Regions from separate parts of the Homo sapiens genome. Here region 1 is linked to region 2. Evidence: fine-mapped expression QTL. A gene starts in region 2. The other region holds a variant in brackets. All regions are shown on one strand. Distances are between the middles of the regions.

Region 1 (10,277 bases), 55 kb before region 2:
CAGTTGCTTTTGAGGACTTAGTCATAAATTCTTTCCCAAGGCCAGTGTTCAGAATGGTGTTTCCTAGGTTTTCTTCTAGGATTCTTAGAGTTTGAGTTCTTATGTTTAAATCTTTAAGGCATCTTGGGTTGATTTTTGTATATGGTGAAAGGTAGGGGCCCAGTTTTATTTTTCTGCATATGGCTAGCCAGCTATCCCAGCATCATTTATTGAATAGGGAACTCCTTCCCCACCACTTGTTTTTGTCTACTTTGTTGAAGATCAGATGGATGTAGGTGTGCAGCTTTATTTCTGAGTTTGCTATTCTGTTCCATTGATCTATGTGTCTGTTTTTGTATCAGTACCAAGCTGTTTTGGTTACTGTAGCCTTATATTTTTTTAAATTTTTTTATTTCTATGGGTTATTAGGAAACAGGAGGTGTTTGGTTACATGAGTAAGTACTTTAGTGGTGATTTGTGAGATTTTGGTGTGCCCATCACCCGAGCAGTATACACTGCACTCAATTTGTAGTCTTTTATCCCTCACCCCCTTCCCACTCTTTCCCCCTGAGTCCCCAAAATCCATTGTGTTATTCTTATGCCTTTGCATCCTCATAGCTTAGCTTCCACTTATGAGTGAGAACATACGATGTTTGGTTTTCCATTCCTGAGTTACTTCACTTAGAATAAGTCTCCAATCTCATCCAAGTTGTGTTGATGCCATTAATTCATTACTTTTTATGACTGAGTAGTATTCTATCATATATATATGGAATTTCTGAATCAAATGGTAGTTCTACTTTTAGTTCTTTAAAGAATCTCTATGCTGTTTTCCATAGCAGTTGTACTAGTTTACATTCCCACCAGCAGTGTAGAAGTGTTCTCTGTTCACCACATCCATGCCAACATGTATTTTTTTTTTATTTTTTGATTATGGCCATTCTTGTAGGAGTAAGGTGGTATCTCATTGTGGTTTTGATTTGCATTTCCCTGATCATTAGTGATGTTGAGCACTTTTTCATATGTTTGTTGGCCATTTGTATATCTTCTTTTGAGAATTGTCTATTCATGTCCTTAGCCCACTTTTTGATGGGTTATTTGTTTTTTCTTGCTAATTTGTTTTAGTTTGTTGTAGATTCTGGATATTAGTCCTTTGTCAGATGTATAGATTGTGAAGATTTTCTCCCACTCTGTGGGTTGTCTGTTTGCTCTGATGACTGTTCTTTTTGCCATGCAAAAGCTCTTTAGTTTAATTAAGTCCCAGCCATTTATCTTTGTTTTTATTACATTTGCTTTTGTGTTCTTGGTAATGAAATCCTTGCCTAAGCCAATGTCTAGAAGGGTTTTTCTGATGTTATCTTCTAGAATTTTTATATTTTCAGGTCTTAGATTTAAGTCCTTGATCCATCTTGAGTTTATTTTTGTGTAAGATGAGAGATGAGGATCCAGTTTCATTCTCCTACATGTGGCTAGCCAATTATCCCAGCACCATTTGTTGAATAAGATGTGCTTTCCCCACTTTATATTTGTGTTTGCTTAGTCAAAGATCAGTTGGCTGTAAGTATTTGGGTTTATTTCTGAGTTCACTGTTCTGTTCCATTGGTCTATGTGCCTATATTTATACCAGTACCATGGTGTTTTGGTGACTATGGCCATATAATATAGTTTGAAATCAGGTAATGTGATGCCTCCAGATTTGTTAGGTTTTTTGCTTTTTGATTTTTTGTTTGCTTGTTTTGCTTTGTTTTGTTTTGCTTAGTCTTGCTTTGGCTATGTGGGTTCTTTTTTGGTTCCATATGGATTTAAGGAGTTTTTTTTCTAGTTCTGTGAAAAACGATGGTGGTATTTTGATGGGAATTGCATTAAATTTGTAGATTGCTTTTGGCAGTATGATCTTTTTCACAATATTGATTCTACCCATCAGTGAGCATGGGATGTGTTTCCATTTGTTTGTGTCATCTATGATTTCTTTAGCAGTGTTTTATAGTTTTCCTTGTACAGGTCTTACAACTCCTTGGTTAGGTATAGTCCAAACATTTTATTTTTCTTTTGCAGCTATTGTAAAAGGGGTTGAGTTCTTGATTTGATTTTCACCTTAGTCGCTGTCAGTGTATAGCAGAGCTACTGATTTGTGCACATTAATTTTGTATCTGGAAACTTTACTGAATTCTTTTATCAGTTCTAGGAGCTTTTTGGAGGAATCTTTAGGGTTTTGTAGGTATACAATTATATCATCAGCAAACAGCAATAGTTTGACTTCCTCTTTACTGATTTGGGTGCCCTTTATTTCTCTCTCTTGTCTGATTGCTCTGGCTAGGACTTCCAGTACTATGTTGAAGAGGAGTGGTGAGAGTGGGCATCCTTGTCATGTTCCAGTCCTCAGTGGGAATGCTTCCAACTTTTCCCCATTCAGTATGATTTTGGCTGTGGGTTTGTCATAGATGGCTTTTATTACATTGAGGTATGGCCCTTGTATGCTAGTTTTGCTGAGAGTTTTAATCATAAAGCATGCTGGATTTTGTCAAATGCTTTTTCCGCATCTATTGAAATGATCATGTGATTTTTATTTTTAATTCTTTTTATGTTGTGTATCACATTTATTGACTTGAGTATGTTAAGCCTATATCCCTGGTATGAAACCCACTTGATTATGGTGGATTATCTTTTTGATATGTTGTTGGATTCAGTTAGCCAGTATTTTGTTAAGGATTTTTGCATCTATGTTCATCAAGGATATTGGTCTGTAGTTTTCTTTTTTGGTTATGTCTTTTCCTGTTTTTAGTATTAGGGTGATACTGGCTTCATACAATGATTTAGGGAGGATTCCCTCTTTATCTTGTGGAATAGTGTTAATAGGATTGGTACCAATCCTTCTTTGAATGTCTGGTAGAGTTCTGCTGTGAATCCATCTAGTCCTGGACTTTTTTGTGTAGGTAATTTTTTAATTATCATTCCAATCTCACTGCTTGTTATTGGTCTGTTCGGGGTATCTAATTCTTCCTGATTTAAGCTAGGAGGGTTGTATCTTTCCAGGAATTTATCTGTCTCCTCTAGGTTTTCTAGTTTATGCACGTAAAGGTGTTCACAGTAGCCTTGAATGATCTCTTGTATTTCTGTGGTGTCAGTTGTAATATCTCCCTTTTCATTTCTAATTAAGCTTATTTGGATTTTCTCTCTTCTTGGTTAATCTTGCTAATGATCTATCAATTTTATTTATCTTTTCAAAGAACCAGCTTTTTGTTTCATTTATCTTTTGTATTTTTTGTTTGTTTGTTTGTTTGATTTCATTCAGTTCTGCTCTGATCTTGGTTATTTCCTTTCTTCTGCTGGGTTTGTGTTTGGTTTGTTCTTGTTTCTCTAGTTCCTTGAGGTGTGACCTTATATTGTCTGTTTTTGCTCTTTCAGACTTTTTTATATAAGTGTTTAGGGCTTTTAGCTTTCCTCTTTGCACTGCCTTTGCTGTATCCCAGAGGTTTTGATAGGTTTTATGTCACTGTTGTCATTCAGTTTGAAGAATTTTTTTAAATTTCCATCTTGATTTCATTGTTGACTCAATAATCATTCAGGAACAGGTTATTTAATTTCCATGTATTTGCATGGTTTTGAACATTCCTTTTGGAGTTGATTTCCAGTTTTATTCCACTGTGGTCTGAGAGAATGCTTGATATAATTTCAATTTTAAATTTATTGAGGCTTGTTTTGTGGCCTATCATATGGTCTATCTGGGAGAAAGTTCCATATGCTGTTGAATAAATGTATATTCTGGGGTTGTTGGATAGAATGTTCTGTAAATATCTCTTAAGTCCATTTGTTCCAGGGTATATTTTAAATCTATTGTTTCTTTGTTAACTTTCTGTCTTCTTGACCTGTCTAGTGCTGTCAGTGGAGTAATGAAGTCCGCCACTATCATTGTGTTGCTGTCTATCTCATTTTTTAGGTCTAGGAGTAATTGTTTTATAAATTTGGGAGCTCCAGTGTTAGGTGCATATATATTTAGGATTGTGATATTTTCCTGTTGGAGAAGGCCTTTTACCATTATATAATGTCCCTCTTTGTCTTTTTTAACTGCTGTTGCTTTAAAGTTTGTCTTGTCTGATGTAAGAATAGCTACTCCTGCTAGCTTTTGGTGTCCATTTGCATGGAATGTCTTTTTCCACCCCTTTCCTTAAGTTTATGAGTTCTTATGTGTTAGGTGAGTCAACTGAAGGCAGCAGATAGTTGATTGGTGAATTCTTACCCATTCAGCAATTCTGTATCTTTTAAGTAGAGCATTTAGGCCATTTATATTCAATGTTAGTATTGAGATGTGAGGTACCATTCCATTCATTGTGCTATTTGTTTCCTGTATGCCTTGGGTTTTTTTGTTTTTGTTTTTGTTTTTGCTTTTTTTTGTATTATAGGTCCTGTGAGATTTATGCTTTAAAGAGGTTCTGTTTTGATGTGTTTCCAGGATTTGTTTCAAGATTTAGAGCTCCTTTTAGCAGTTTTTGTAGTGCTGCCTTGGTAGTGGCAAGTTCTTTTAGCATTTGTTTGCCTGAAAAAGACTGTATCTTTCCTTCATTTATGAAGCTTGGTTTTGCTTGGTACAAAATTCTTGGCTGATAATTGTTTTGTTTAAGGAGGCTGAAGATAGGGCCCTAATCCTTTCTTGCTTGTAAGGTTTCTGCTGAGAAATCTGCTGTTAGTCTGATAGGTTTTCCTTTACAGGTTACCTGGTGCTTTTGCCTCACAGCTCTTAAGATTCTTTCCTTCATCTTAACTTTAGATAACCTGATGACAATGTGCCTAGGCTATGATCTTTTTGTGATAAATTTCTCAAGTGTTCTTTGAGCTTCTTGTATTTGGATATCTAGGTCTCTAGCAAGGGTGGGGAAGTTTCCCTCAATTATTGCACAAATGTGTTTCCAAACTTTTAGATTTCTCTTCTTCCTCAGGAACACCAATTATTTTTACATTTGGTTGTTTAACATCCCAGACTCCTTGGAGGCTTTGTTCATATTTTCTTATTCTTTTTTCTTTGTCTTTGTTGGATTGGGTTAATTCAAAAACCTTGTCTTCAGGCTCTGAGTTCTTTCTTGTGCTTGCTC[A/T]ATTCTATTGCTGAGACGTACCAGAGCATTTTGCATTTCTATAAGTGTGTCCATTGTTTCCTGAAGTTTTGTTTTTTATTTATGTTATTTCATTGAAGATTTCTCCCCTCATTTCTTGTATCATTTTTTTTTAAATTTCCTTAAATTGGGCTTTGCCTTTCTCTGTTGCTTCCTTGATGAGTTCTTTGTCAGGTAGATCAGGGGTTTCTTCTTGGTTTAGATCCACATCTGGTAAGCTAGTGTGATTTTGTGGGGGATGTTAAAGAACCTTGTTTTTTCATATTACCAGAGTTGGTTTTCTTGTTCCTTCTCATTTGGGTAGGTTCTGTCAGAGGGAAGATCTAGGGCTCAAGGCTGTTGTTCAGATTCTTTTGTCCTATGGCGTGTTCTCTTGATGTAGTACTCTCCCCCTTTTCCTAGGGATGTGCCTTCCTGAGAGCCCAAGCTGTAGTGATTGTTATCTCTTTTTAGGATCTAGACATCCAGCAGTCCTACCAGGTTCCAGGCTGGTATTGGGGGTTGTCTGCACAGAGTCCTGTGATGTGAACCATCTGTGGGTCTCTCAGCTGTGGATACCAGTACCTGCTCTGGTAGAGGTAGCAGGGGAGTGAGATGGACTCTGTGAGGGTCCTTAGTTTTGGTCATTTAATGCACTATTTTTGTGCTGGTTGGCCTCCTGCCAGGAGATGATGCTTTCAAGACAGCATCAGCTGTGGTAGTATGGGGAGGATCAGGCGGTGGGTGGGGCCCTAGAACTCCCAAGAGTATATGCCCTTTGTCTTCAGCTACCAGGGTGAGTAGGAAAGGACCATCAGGTTGGGGCAGGGCTAGGCGTGTCTGAGCTCAGACTCTTCTTGGGCGAGTCTTGCTGCAGCTGCTGTGGGGATGGAGGTGTGGTTCCCAGGTAAATGGAATTATGTTCCCAGGAGGATTATGGCTACTTCTGCTGTGTCGTGCAGGTTGTCAGGGAAGTAGGGGTAAACTGGCAGTCACAGACCTCACCCAGCTCCCACGAAACCCAGAAGATCAATCTCACTCCCACCATGCCCCCAACCCAGTAGTACCAAGTCTGTTTCCAGGCAGTGGGCAAACAGGACTGAGAACTTGCCCCAGGCTACCAGCCTCCCAGCTGCAAAAGCAAGTAGTGCTTTTGTGCTTCCCTGCCTGTGGAGTCTGCACACCAGATTCATGCCTTCCCCCAAGTTCTGGCCAGGAGATTTCCTATTCAGTTGGAATTGTTAGAAAATTCAGCTGGAGTTTTCCTTCTCCCTGTGATGTTTTCTGAGTTCCTCTGGCAGTCCTCCCCAGGTAGCCCTGTGAGACAAGTCAGAAATGGCATCCCTGGGAACCCAGAGAGCCCACAGGGCTTTTCCTGCTACTTCCTTTACCCCTATATTTCACTTGGTTCTCTAAATTGACTCAGCTCCAGGTAAGGTCAGAATCTTCTCCCATGATCTAGACCTTCAGGTTCCCCAGTGAGGTTGTGTGTTTGAAGGTGGACAATCCCCCTTTCCTACTTCCACAGTTTGGGCACTCACAGTATTTGGGGCATCTCCCGGGTCCTACGGGAGCAATCCACTTCCTTCAGAGGGTCTGTGGATTCTCTTGGCTTTCCTGAATTATTCCTGCAGTAGTTCTGGAGCAAAAGTTCACGATGCAAGACTCCACATGCTGCTCTGTCCATCCGAGTGGGAGCTGCAGTCTAGTCCTGCTTCCCGTCCACCATCTCTGTAGCCTTATATTAGTAGTATATTTTGAAGTCAGGTAATGAGATGCCTCCAGCTTTGTTCTTTTTGCTTAGGATTGCTTTGGCTATTTAGACTCTTTTTTGGTTCCATATGAATTTTACAATAATTTTTTTCTAATTCTGTGAAAAATGATGTTGGTAGTTTGACAGGAATAGCATTTAATCTCTTAATTGCTTTAAGTAGTGTGGCCATCTTAATGATATTGACTCTTCTAATCCATGAGCATGGAATGTTTTTCCATTTGTTTGTGTTGTCTCTGATTTCTTTCAGCAGCAATTTATAGTTCTCCTTTTACCTCCTTGGTTAGCTATATTTTTAGGGATTTTATTCTTTTTGTGTCTATAGTGAATGGGATTACGTTATTGATTTGGCTCTCACCTTGGACATTATTGGTGTATAGAAATGCTACTTATTTTTTGTACATTGATTTTGTATCCTGAAACTTTACTGAACTTGTTTATCAGTTCCAGGAGCCTTTTGGCAGATTCTTTAAAGTTTTCTAGGTATGCAATTATGTTATCAGTGAACAGAAAAATTTGACTTCTTCTTTTCCTATTTGGATGCCTTTTATTTCTTTCTCTTGCCTAATGGCTCTGGCTAGTACTTCCAGTGCTATGTTGAATAAGAGAGGTGAGAGTGGGCATCCTTGTCTTGTGCTAGTTCTCAAGGGTAATGCTTCCAGCTTTTGCCCATTCAGTAGGATTTTGGCTGTGGGTTTGTCATAGATGGCTCTTATTATTTTGAAGTAAGTTCCTTTGATAACCTAATTTGCTGAGAGTTTTTATCATGAAGGGATGTTGGATTTTATCAAAGGCTTTTTCCATGTCTATTGAGATGATCATATGGGTTTTCTTTCTAATTCTGTTTATGTGGTGAATCACATTTATGGATTCACGTATGTTGAACCAACCTTGCATTGTGAGAATGAAGCCTACTTGATCATGGTGAATTAACTTTTTTTTTTTTTTTTTTGAGTCAGTGTCTCATTCTGTCACCTGGGCTGGAGTGCAGCAGCACAATCACAGCTCATTGAAGCCTCAACCTCCTGGGCTGGAGTGATCCTCACACCTCAGCCTCCTAAATAGCTGGGACCACTACACCTAGCTAATTTTTTATTTTTTCTGTAGATGTGGGGTCTCATATCATGTTGCTTAAACTCCTGGGCTCAAGCAATTCTCCTGACTCAACCTCCCATAGTGCTGGGATAACAGGTATGAGCCACCGTGCCTGGCCATGAATTAACTTTTTCATGTGTAGCTGGATTCAATTTGCAAGTATTTTGTTGAGCATTTTTTTCAGTCTATGTTCATAGGGATATTGGCCTGTAGTTTCTTTTTTGTCTTTGCCAGGTTTTGGTATAAGGATAATGCCAGCTTCATAGAATAAGTTAGGGAGGAGTCCCTCCTCCTCATTTTTTTGGAATAGTTTCAGTAGAATTGGTACCAGTTCTTCTCTGTACTTTTGGTAGAATTTGGCTGTGAATCTTTCTGGTCCCAGGATTTTTTTTTTTTTTTAGTGTTAGATTATTTTATTACTGAATCAATTTCAAAACTCAATATTGTCTATTTGGGGTTTCAATTGCTTCTTGATTCAATCTTTGGAGGTTGTGTTTCCAGGAATTTATCCATTTCCTCTAGATTTTCTTGTTTGTATGCATACAGATGTTCATAATGATCTCTGAGGTTCTTTTATATTTCTGTGGGATTAGTTGTAATGTCACCTTTGTCCTTTCTAAATGTGCTTATTTGGATCGTCGTTTTTTTCTTTGCTAATGTAGCTAGCACTCTATCGGTCTTGCATTTCCTTTCAAAGATCCAACTTTTTGTTTCATTGATTCTTTGTATGGGTTTTTGAATTTTGATTCCATTCAGTTCTGTTCTGATTTTAGTTATTTCTTTTCTTCTCCTAGCTTTGGGGTTAGTTCTTGTTTTGGAATGAACATTTTTAAGGCCTTTAATATATATGGCCAAATTGCCATCCAAAAAGAATGTATCACTCTGCACTGCCACAAGCAAAGCATGGAGTGCTCCCGTCATCTCAGAATAAAACCCATCCATTTAATCAGCTCATTTGATGAAGGCCCAGGAAAACAAAGTTAGGGCATGATTCTTACTAGGTAGATGAAGAGAGTTAAGAGATGGCTAGTGGGGCGGGAAAGGACTGAAGCCTCAAGCCTTCATCCTGTTTAATTGTGAAGTATAGTGACCAACTAGTTCTAGTTGGCCTGAGACTTTCCAGGTTTTAGCACTGAGAGTCCAGAGTCCCAGGAAACCCCTAAGTGTCAGGCAGACAAGGACACTTGGTCGCTCTATCAAAAGTTAAACACCAGTACCACCTCTAAAGTTCTATTTACCACTTACAATTTCAGTTTTGAGCCTGTGTCTAAAACTCATTTTTTTAAGATACTCCTTGGTATATTCAGGGAAAACATCATAGAACAGAGCCTAAGACGTGTGAGTGGTAAATAGAATAGGTCGGGTGTGAATCCTTCTGCTAACCTGAAAAATAAGGCAGTCAGCGTCCTTGGACCCTACTAGTGTCATCCAGGTCCAGGGCCTTCCCCCTCCTAGGATTCCATGTTCATGAAATCTGAGCCAAGCAACAGTATTGGTATTAGATTAGGCTTATTTAACCTCAACCACAAAAGAAAGTTAGATTTGCTGAGAAAAAGTGGACATTCTCTGAAAAACATCCCCTTATTTTCTAAGTGTTCAAATTAACTACTAGGTATTTCCTTTCTTCTTCTTTTTTTTTTTTTTTTTTTTTTGAGACAGAGTCTCACTCTGTCACCAGGCTGGAGTGCAGTGGCGTGATCTCGGCTCACTGCAACCTCTGCCTTCTAGGTTCAAGCGAGTCTCCTGCCTCAGCCTCCCAAGTAGCTGGGACTACAGGTGTGTGCCACCACGCCCAGCTAATTTTTGTATTTTTAGTAGAGATGGGGTTTCACCATGTTGGCCAGGATGGTCTTGACCTCTTGACCTTGTGATCTGCCTGCCTCCACCTCCCAAAGTGCTGGGATTACAGGTGTGAGCCACTGCGCCCGGCCTCCTTTCTTCTTGTGCTATTGAAGAGGGATTTGTGATTTAGGGGGAGCTAACATATGATCCTTCAACATGGAGAACTCTACCTTTCTTCAAAGGAAGCTCAGTTCTAGTGGGGCAAACACTGTGCATAGTTTGCCCTTGACCTTTGGGTTCCATAAGCTCTCTGTTGGGCTGGGCTGGAATTTACTTCTCACCAGTCACCCATGGAGGACCCACTCAGTGAGGGCCCCAGGTAAGGGAAGATGCACAGAACATGGTGATGGGCCCTGGCCACTGTGCAATGCCAAGAGGAGTCCTCCCTGAGTTGAGTTTTACAGCCTCTCCAGGTCACCTTCATTTTAGGACTCTTTTCTTCATGGTGCCTTTGTACCTCCCCAGGACAGTATTTATGATGAAATGGAAGAGAAGTGGTCAAAACA
Region 2 (10,277 bases):
GAGCTGGCCCCCAGCCCTACCGGCGTCACCCTCCTGATGACAAACTACCCTCTCACTAGAATGGAAGCTCTGTGAGGGCAGAAACTTTTGCTGGTTTATTTTTTATTCTTATTTTTATTTTTGAGACAGGGTCTCACTCTGTCACCCAGGCTGGAGTGCAGGGCGCAATCTTGGCTCATTGCAACCTCCACCTCCCAGGCTAGAGCCATCCTCCCACCTCAGCCTGCTGAGTAGCTGAGACTACAGGAGCAAACTACCACACCAGGCTATTACTGGCTACTGTCTCAGGCTGCTGGCATGATAATTGTCTGGGCTTTCCTGAATGAATAGTAATAGCTATCTTAGACATGTTCAGTGTAGAAATAATCAGGTCTATTGCAAGTTGGCCAGAATTTCCAATAGATACTGCTAGCACGTGTCAATCGTTGCTCTAGGCCCTGGGAATGCAGTAAAATAAACCAACGTGGCCCAGGAGTTCAGGTCTACCCTGGGCAAGACCCCAGGTGGCAAGACCCCAGGTAGCAAGACCCCAACTCTTAAAAAAAAAAAGCAAAACCAAAACCAAAACAAAACAAAAAAACAGGTGGGTAATTTAGCCATCTCTGTCAAAATATAAAATTCACATAAACTGGCCCACAATTTAACTTCCAAGAGTTTTTCCTACATTCACTTAAACAAGTATACTCAAAACCATATATAAGGCTATTCATGGTAGCATTCCTTGAAATAACGAAAGAGCAGAAACAACTGTTTATCAGCATTAGAAGATTTAGGCAAGCTATTAATCATATTCCAGGGAACTCTATTTGGCTACTAGAAAGAATAGGAAGATCAATGTGGTTGAGCCTGCGTGATCTACATAATGTATTGATCAGTACATATTTTGTGTATTCACAGAAGAGCTCTGACAAAAAATGCACAGGAAGTTCCTTCAGTAATGTTAAAGAAAAGCAGAATTACACACAGATGTGGGCGTGCAGTGTGAGAAGGCTGATGGGTGGAGGTGACAGTGAGAGCTGCTTTATTTCCCATACCTTGCTGCACAGTTTGTACTGTTTGAATTTTTACCATGTACATGTATGACTTATTCTAAAACATATACCTAGTTAAAATCTTTATTTAAAGATCCATTCTTATTCACATGCTGGAAAAGATCTAAACTAGATCTAACCCTGTTTAGTGCCATTAGGTCAACTGTCTTTACAATTTTTAATGCATTCTAACCTCTGTTAAAGTCTCATCTTACAGAATAAAACCAACCAAAGAATCAAATGAAAGCAGGACTTCCTTTCCCCCATCCCTCAATTATTTTTTTCTGAGGATAACAATGCTTAGTGTATTCATTTTAGACAATACAGAAAAGATAAAAAGGAAAATTAAAATTATGTATAATTCCACCATCCAAATATAAATGCCCAGTAATATTTTACTCTTTCCTACCAAATATTTTATGCATACACATTTTTCCTTATATTTGAACACATCATATTTCTGTAGTATAAGTGGATTTTTCCACTGGTAAGTACATCTTGTATTGTAAGTACTTTCCTGTCTTTAGTTTTTCTTCTACAGCATGGGTTTTAATATCTGTAAGGCACTTAATCTTAGAGATGGGCTATAATTTACATAGCCAGTTCCTGATTACATTTAGGATGACTTTAAAACGCAAATCTTTAAGAATACCTCTAATTATTTTCTTAGAATAATTTCCTAAAAGTAGTATTATGGTGTCAAAATGAATAAACCTTTTTGAGGCTCTTGTTACACATTCAATAGCATTTTCTGACAGTATATAATAAAAATCAATACAATCCAAGGCTGAGATGACATGAATTTGGATATAATAAGATTGGCGCATAGCTCCGTCCTCCATAGCCATCTCATCTCACTCATTTCATTACCTTTTCAACAACGTGACAATGCTTTTTAAGTGGTTTCCCCATCAAATCATAACTGACATTTAGAAGGGAAAATGCTAACGTGGCTTCTTCTCTGGCCTAGGTGTTCCAGGATACACTGTCAGATGATAGTCAGCCTTTTCTGTTTTTTGTTTTTTGCTTAAGTTACACATCCCTCTAGTCATAGTACCTAGAAAACAGTCACTTGCAAAGGATTTATGACACCATTAACAACGGGCCATCCAGCACTGTAAGGGGAGAGACATCGTGTGGCAGTTCTTGTTTTATGGGACCTAGATTTTCTGCACTAGCTTATGGGCTAGAAACTTTGTTAAGCTAGTATTTTTTAAACAATGTACTTGTATTTTTGGTTCCTAAAAACAGTAAAAGTAACACTTGTTTCATAGAGAAAGTACAGAGAAGTATAAAAAGAAAATAAAAATTACTTAAAAACTTGCCATTTGGAAGTAATTCTTTGGTCACATTTTGTGGCCTTTTCCCAATTTTTTTTCCACATGTATATATAACATATGTAAATTTGAATATGTTGCCATGTAATACATATATTTTATATAATCTCTGCTAAATAGTAAATGTATATAAGTCTATTTGTATTACATAAGTATATTTATTATTTTATATATTTATGCCCCAAAGTATTTAAATATAAATATGTGTTTATAATAATCATATAAATAAATGATATATAAATGTTTGTAATCTATATATCCATATAAACATAAAAATATTTTTTAACCTCATTTCACTAAAAGCCTCTGAAGAAACTACTATTACTGTCCCCATTTTTCTGTTGTGAAAAATCACGGCTTGGAAATAAGCTAGTAAGAGAGAGAGCCACAGCCAGATTTAAGTGTCTCACTCAAGGGCTTCAGTGACAGATCACAAAGATTTAGACGTCATTCTACTTGCAGCTGGAAGGCAGTGAAAGAATCTCATGAAGAAAAACATAAAATCATAACTTTTTTAGAGAACAACATTTCAAAAAATTTTATAATAACAAAGCCACAAAAACAGAAGTTCTTAACAAATCCACTATAGGAGAGGGGGTTAGAGCCTCACAAAGGAAGTGCTAGAATCTAGGCCCCAGCATCTCATTCCAGAGTCCCATTCTACCACTGTATTACATGTCACAATTAAACTGTAAATACATTCCATCTCATCACAATCATTCCAGTAATATTCTAGCAGCATCCTAGCTCTTGCAGTGATAACTAAAAAGCAAAACATGCATTTGCCATCGGAAGCAGAAACCTGCATCTCATCCGAAGCTTGAGAGAACCTGAAAGCCACTCGCTCTCAGGCCCAAACCCCTAACCGGCAGGTAGTATTGCCACTCCCTCCAATCCAGGCTGGCTGCCTCAGACTGCGGGCTGCCCCGGAACCTGACAGACATCCATTCTGCACGCACATGATGTCCATAACAGGGCGCTGCAGCCACGGCATTCAAACAACCCAGCAAAGGTGTCCAAACCTCAGCAAAACATATAATCCCATCATTTTCAAACAGAATGAAACTTGCAACTTCACCTGTAAATTCTTAACCCCACAAGTGCAGGTCTCTGATTGTGTCTATCTAGTCTTCCCATTATATTGTTTTTTGAACTGTTCTGTATCTTTTTAATTTTTTTTTTTTTTTTTTTTTGAGACGGAGTTTCGCTCTTGTTGCCCAGGCTGGAGTGCAGTGGCACGATCTCGGCTCACCACAACTTCCACCTCCCAGGTTCAAGCGATTCTCCTGCCTCAGCCTCCCGAGTAGCTGGGATTACAGGCATGCGCCATCATGCCCGGCTAATTTTGTATTTTTAGTAGAGACGGGGTTTCTTCATGTTGGTCAAGCTGGTCTCAAACTCCCGACCTCAGGTGAACCACCGCCTCGACCTCCCAAAGTGCTGGGATGACAGGCGAGAGCCACCACGCCCAGTCTTTTTTAATTTCTTTAAAAAATAAATAATTGAATTAGTAGGACCACATGGGTGTGTTTGTGTGTATGTGTGTGTGCGTTTATGTTGGCAAGTGTGTATGTTGGTGGGTATGTGTGTTGGTGGGAGGATAGCTGTAGCAGCAAAGTCAGTAGAGATTTAAATTTTGGCTTCTATTATTTCACAAGTTTGACTGGGATCAGGATGAGGCCTTTATACAAGTAGTTAAACTTGCAGCATTTCAGAAGCTCCTAGGACTTCATCAGTCTAAGCTAGAATGGCCTTCAGATCTGGAAACTGCACGGCCCTCGGCAAGGCTCTCAGAGGGACTGCTACCTCTTACACTAACTTCATGGTTTCCCCATCCACACTCACATACGAGGATCACCTCCATGGCCCCAGGGCCACCCGATCTCACTCTCAGCAGCCTAGAAAACTCCAGAATCAAAGGCCTTCCTCCCAAAAGGCCCCTCTGACCTTAACAAAGAGGCAAATCCTTACCTTACTCTCACGATGGTAGCACCTTCGTCACAGGCCTATCCACTACCATCTGAGCATCTAAGACAAGAGCAAACGTCTAATGAAGGACGGAAGGGCACAGCCAGCCAGCTCTACTTCCTGTTTCGAAACTCCTGAGTCACAAACACTAGAGGGGAAAGAGCGCTTACCACTTGCCCCTGAGTGAGCAGAGTGCCTTCTAAAGCTTCTAAAGCTGCAGGAAAAAGGCCTGGTGGTCCAGGAGACCGCACGCAGGGCACCTGGCCACCTGAGCACTGGCCCCTGGCTGTGACTTTGGATGGGCCATTTTACCTTTGGGGCCTCATTTCCACATTCCAAAACAAGGACGTTGGACTGGATTGTAACTAAGAACACTTTCATTTCATATTTAGGATTTAAAGATTTTTCTGGGTTCATCATTAAGACTTTAATTTTTTCATTCAATGAATCTTGATGGAGCACCTCAGAGAGGTCTTGAGATTGGACACTGCAGAGCCCTCTCATCTTGGTTCTCAGGGTGGCTGTGAACTTTCAGAGCTAAAGCCCCTGGTTTAGCCAAGGAGCATCTCTGTGGCCCCAAGGTCACCAGATTCCACCCTCAGCAGCCTAAAATACTCTAAAATTAAAAAAAAAAAAAAACTCTAAAAAGAAAAAACTCTAAAATGAAAAACCTCTAAAAAGAAAAAACTCTGAAATAAAAAAATTCTAAAATGAAAAAAATCTAAAAAGAAAAAACTCTAAAATGCAAAAACTCTTTGGTAAGATGGTAAGTCCATCTTACCAAAGGTGATCCTTGTATATGAGTGTAGCTGAGGAAACCATGAAGTTAGCTGAAAGCTGGGTTTACCATCTTATCAAAGAAGCAAATCCTGGGGCCCTCACCATGTTGGGCTCTAGGGATATACCAGTAAACAAAATATTGCCTTCATACTGAGAGTTAGATGAAATGTTTTCTGATATTAAAAGTAGGAAAAGAAAATCAAACACCTCTCTTCTTTGAAACTGCCTTTTGTCTTTCCCCAAATAGAATATAAGCTTTCAGAGGGTAGGGACTCATAGCTGAGAAGACTGAACGAAGTATCTGAAAAGGACTCTTCACCAGAGAGGGCTAGGTCAAGATGGCCTCATAATATCAATGCCTGGATGGCCACCGTGGCTCATGCATGTAATCCTAGCACTTTGAGAGGCCAAGGTGGGAGGATCCCTTGAGCATAGGAGTTTGAGACCAGCCTGGGCAACAAAATGAGACACCATCTCTATGAAGAAAAATTTTTTAATTAGCCAGGTGTGGTAGCACGCGCCTGTGGTCCCAGCTAATCTGAAGGCTGAGATGGGAAAATTGCTTGATCCCAGGATGTTGAGGCTGCAGTGAGCCGTGATTGCACCACTGCACTGCAGCCTGGGTGACAGAGCAAGACTTTGTCTCAAAAAATAAATAAATAAAAAAGAAATAGAAACAGAATGAGCAAAATAAAATACCAATAGTATTAATATGCAATAATAATTGCTAACTCGTGTAGTAAGTGATGTATGCGTATTATCTCCTTCAAGCCTCACAGTCACCTCTGGAGGCATTATTAATCATTTAATGATGAGATAACAGAGGCACAGAGGAATTACTTGCCTGAGATCGCATAGTTAAAAAACAGTGTACACATACAAAAGAAAAATACATTTTGCAAAGATACAGATAAATTCACGAATCCACATCAAAACATTAGAGAACTGTCTTTGGGGAACAAGAGAGAGGGCAGGAGGGCAAGGGTGGGGGTGGAGAGATAAAAGGAAACCCTTCAGACACGGAAGAGGGGGAAGGGGCTGTGCACCTCAGGGCATCGTGATTCGACAGAATGACAGAATAAAGTACTTAACCGTCGGCCCCAGGGCCAAATGAAAAAGAAAAAAAAGTGGATTGATAAAGTCTTCTGGACTCTCCAAACGGGTCCACAGGAGGGAGACCGTGTATCTGCATTCGAGGCGGCAGGGAAGCTTGGAGGACAAAAAGGTAGCAGAGGAACTGGAGACTGCTCAGAGTGAAAAAGTAGCAAAGTCAGAGGCAACGGCTCAGAGAGAAACCACACAGGAGACCTGGGCCAGGCAGCACCCAGAGGTGTCCTCAGAAGGGCAGATCCAAGTTGCTTCCCCACCCCCACAGCCCTGTTTCTAGAGCAAGTCAAGAAACAAAAATATTGTGGTTTCCTGTTGAAGAGGCCACCTTGGCAACAGGCACTCACCCGCTCCACCCTTTCCTGGCACCATCGCAGTCTCCGAGTCCCCTAACCTGCCTAACTCCACGTGCTCAGCAGGGAAGGGGGTGGGAAAGGCTCCCAGGAAGAAGTTTCTTTTACTTTCAATAACCACCCTGGCTCTTCTGCCTCCCTCCATGGCCTCACTTCCTGTTGAGTTGACTAGCAAATTCAGCAGGGCTTGAAAAAAAACACAAAAGATAAAAGGAGGAGAACCTGTGAAAACACTTCCCTCCAGCAGAAAGGCAGAATCTGGTCTCCGAGAGAAAGAGAAAACTTCACCACAGAAGGAACTGCAGGGTAAACTTTACTCCTAAAGCAGAACAGAGATGACTCACTCGAACAAGAAATGTTTCCTGTTTAAAGGAACAGATGCCCAATTTCCAACCATTCAGAAGAGGGATGTGGCAGACAATTCATGGACGTGCAAACTAAAGCCCGAGCGCTGGACATGCTTTATTGGAAAGCATTTATACTGACTCCATTTAGTAATAATAACCCCTGTCGGTGGCAAGTAATATGCCATTCTTTCTTGCAAAGGGTCTGGGAATAGGAAGTTTCCCTTTGCCTTGATCAAACCTCAGCACTGAAGTCACAGACCAGCCCTCTCCTCCCTCCCGCCGGACTGGGTAAAGCCAGCCCTGTAGCTGAAATGTAGGTAGATTGTTCAGAAAAAAGGAGGAAGTGTTCTGGCTCAGCCCTACTTGGCTTAGCCCTGCTCGGCTCAGCCCTGCTCAGGCTGAGTTCCCATCCTTGGCCATGTTCTCCAGTTTAGTTGTAACCCGTGTCTTTGTAGCATTGATCCTGGAGTGTTGGTGCTACTGAGGTCTGTTCTCCAAAGCTCTGAGCCCTAGACCCTCCCCTGTTCTCTCATTTTTTTTTTTTTTTTGAGACGGAGTCTCGGTGCGTTGCCCAGGCAACAGTACAGTGGTGCGATCTTGACTCACTGCAACCTCCACCTCCTGAGTTCAGGTGATTCTCCTGCCTCAGCCTCCCGAGTAGCTGGGACTACAGGCACCCACCACCACCCCCGGCTAATTTTTGTATTTTTAATAGAGATGGGGATTCACCATGTTGGTCAGACTGGTCTTGAACTCCTGACCTCAAGAAATCCACCCGCCTTGGCCTCCCAAAGTGCTGGGATTACAGGCATGAGCCACGGTGCCCAGCCCCTCCCCTGTTCTCTGCCATCTGCCTCTCTTTCCCATTTGAATTTTTTGTTCGGGGGACGGAGTTTCGCTCTTGTTGCCCAGGCTGGAGTGCAATGGTGCCATCTCGGCTCACAGCAACCTCCGCCTCCCGGGTTCAAGCGATTCTCCTGCCTCAGCCTCCTGGGTAGCTGGGATTACAGGCATGCGCCACCATGCCCGGCTAATTTTGTATTTTTAGTAGAGACAGGGTTTCTCCATGTTGGTCAGGCTGGTCTCAAACTCACGACCTCAGGTGATCCACCCGCCTCGGCCTGGCAGAGTGCTGGGATTACAGGCATGAGGCAGCGCGCCCAGCCATGAATTTTTAAAAAGGGTTTTCTGCCCTTTTGCTTTCACATCTTGTACATTTTATAACCAGAACACCAGCAATAACACATTACCTATATGTTGCACCTTGACATGAACTATCTCTAATTCTGGCAGCAGAATTCTCTAATTCAGGGTATTGTTCTCCCATGTTATGGATGAGGAAACTAAGACTCAGACAGTTACATGGAGTCAAACTCAGTCCTGCTGAGCCAAAAACAGAGATTTTTCTATGACATACTAACTCCCTTTCTCCAACACTTCAAATTTGGAATGAATCATGTGGATGGAAGAGCAACAAATTTAAACTAATAGTGACTGGTGCATAAAGGGCAGAAGGTCCTTGGTTTCTCAGTCACCTAACAAAAAGGAGTTGGCCTAATAAAGGCACAAGCTAATACTTATCAAACCATTGGCGTATGCCAGACACAGCCACCTAAACTAGCTCATTTCCACTTCTGAACAGTTCTCAGAAGTGGATGCTACGATTGGTCCCATTTTATGGATGAGGACACTGAGGCTTAGAGAGGCTGAAAGACTTGGCCACGCTCAGTCAGTGAGTGACAGAATAAGGTCTGTTTGTCTCTAAAACCCTGAGTGGTTAGTCACCACCTAAACATTAATGCATAGCCATGAATCTCAATCTGACCCACCTCAGAATTAACTGTAACATTTCTAAAAATATGAGTCTTCCAGCTCCAGCTTTGGAACTCCTATCTGAGCAAAACTGTGGGAGATAAAACAGCTGGAGCACTTAGAATAGTGCCTGGGCCTTCCACATTTCTCAATAAATAGGCTGTGGGTGCAGTGGCTCACACCAGTAATCCCAGCACTTTGGAAGACCAAGGCAGGATGATCGCTTGAGCCCAAGAGATCGAGGCCAGCCTGGGCAACATAGGGAGACACTGTCTCTGCAGAAAATTTTAAAAAATTAGTCAGTTATGGTGGCATGCATCTGTTGTCTCAAGCTACTCAGGAGGCTGAGGTGAGAGGATAACTGGAGTGTGGGAGGTCAAGGCTGCAGTGAGCTATGATCACACCACTGCACTCCAGCCTAGGTGACAGAGCGAGGCCCTGTCTAAATAAATAAATAAACAAATAAATAAATATTCACTACTATGTTATTTAAGCTCACAACATCTCTAAGATGGCTATAAATTATTAGGCTTACATACAGATGATGCAATTAAATGCAACATCAATTAGCTGACAAATGGCAGGGCCAGTGCATGAACTCAGGAGTGTCTCACTCAAAAGTTTCTGCTCTTAGCCCCTGTACACATCTCCCTGCATGTACCCAGGCCCAGCCTAGCAGAAATGGATGATCTGCTGGAGGCATCTGAGGAGCAGTACTGAGAATGGGGGGAGCAGGGTAGGAGTGGGAGTCTCAGGGCTTCAACTTGTGCCATTTGTAAGGCACTGACCCTAGATTCTCCCAGTGTGTGTGTATATATATATGACTGATAAATGAATTATGGCCAGGCACAGTGGCTTACCCCTGTAATCCCAGCGCTTGAAGAGATTGAGGTAGGCGGATCACTTGAAGCCAGGAGTTTGAGACCAGCCTAGCCAACATGGCAAAACCCCATCTCTACTAAAAATACAAAAAAATTAGTTGGGCATGGTGGCATGTGCCTGTAGTCTCAGCCACTCAAGGCACGAGACTCACTTGAGCCCAGGAGGCGGAGGTTGCAGTGAGCCGAGATGACACCATTGCACTCCAGCGTGAGTGACAGAGGGACACTCCGTCTCAACAAAAATAAAAAGTGTTAATAAGTGAATTATAAACCTCAGGTTGGTTGAATTCCTATTGTGAAGCACAAAGATCATTATTACTTCATTTGCTGTAACCAACTTCTCACCCTCATCTTGAGACATGTGCCTGTGTGACTGTTTATATCAGAATTAATAATGTGCATGGTCCTTAGTCCCAGGGAAGCTGAAAGATCCGGAGGTGTTGCTGGAGCTGCAGGGACATGGAGAGCTGGCTCCTGCCCAGCACAGAATGAGGACAGGTCTGCTTTGACTCAATCTCCAAGTGGTTTCCACCCTCTAGAATCTCAGCTCCCACCTGGAGGCCTGGTCCTGAGACTACTGTGTCTCCTACCATGTCCACCAGCCGGCTGAAAGCAGATTTGGACCTGTAAGTGTCCCTAAAAAAGCCAAGAAAGACCAAAC

What was found. PIP is the estimated chance that this variant, and not a neighbour inherited with it, causes the effect.
Region 1: its variant is fine-mapped to the expression of CASP8 in monocytes (Schmiedel 2018, PIP 0.92).

Annotation. Positions count from the first base shown.
Region 1 is chr2:201,309,210-201,319,486 of GRCh38, reverse strand. FLACC1 (flagellum associated containing coiled-coil domains 1) reads left to right here. Exons shown (of 15, transcript NM_001127391.3): 10 at 10,237-10,277. Among named protein-coding and RNA genes, the nearest start is that of FLACC1, 43 kb to the left of the region's middle. The variant A/T (reference allele first, on the strand shown) is at 5,067.
Region 2 is chr2:201,254,676-201,264,952 of GRCh38, reverse strand. It overlaps CASP8 (caspase 8), which reads right to left and starts at 4,417. Exons shown (of 9, transcript NM_001372051.1): 1 at 4,340-4,417. RefSeq lists enhancers at 6,113-6,532, 6,553-6,612, 6,609-6,753, 6,713-6,842, 7,323-7,372 and a cis regulatory region at 6,681.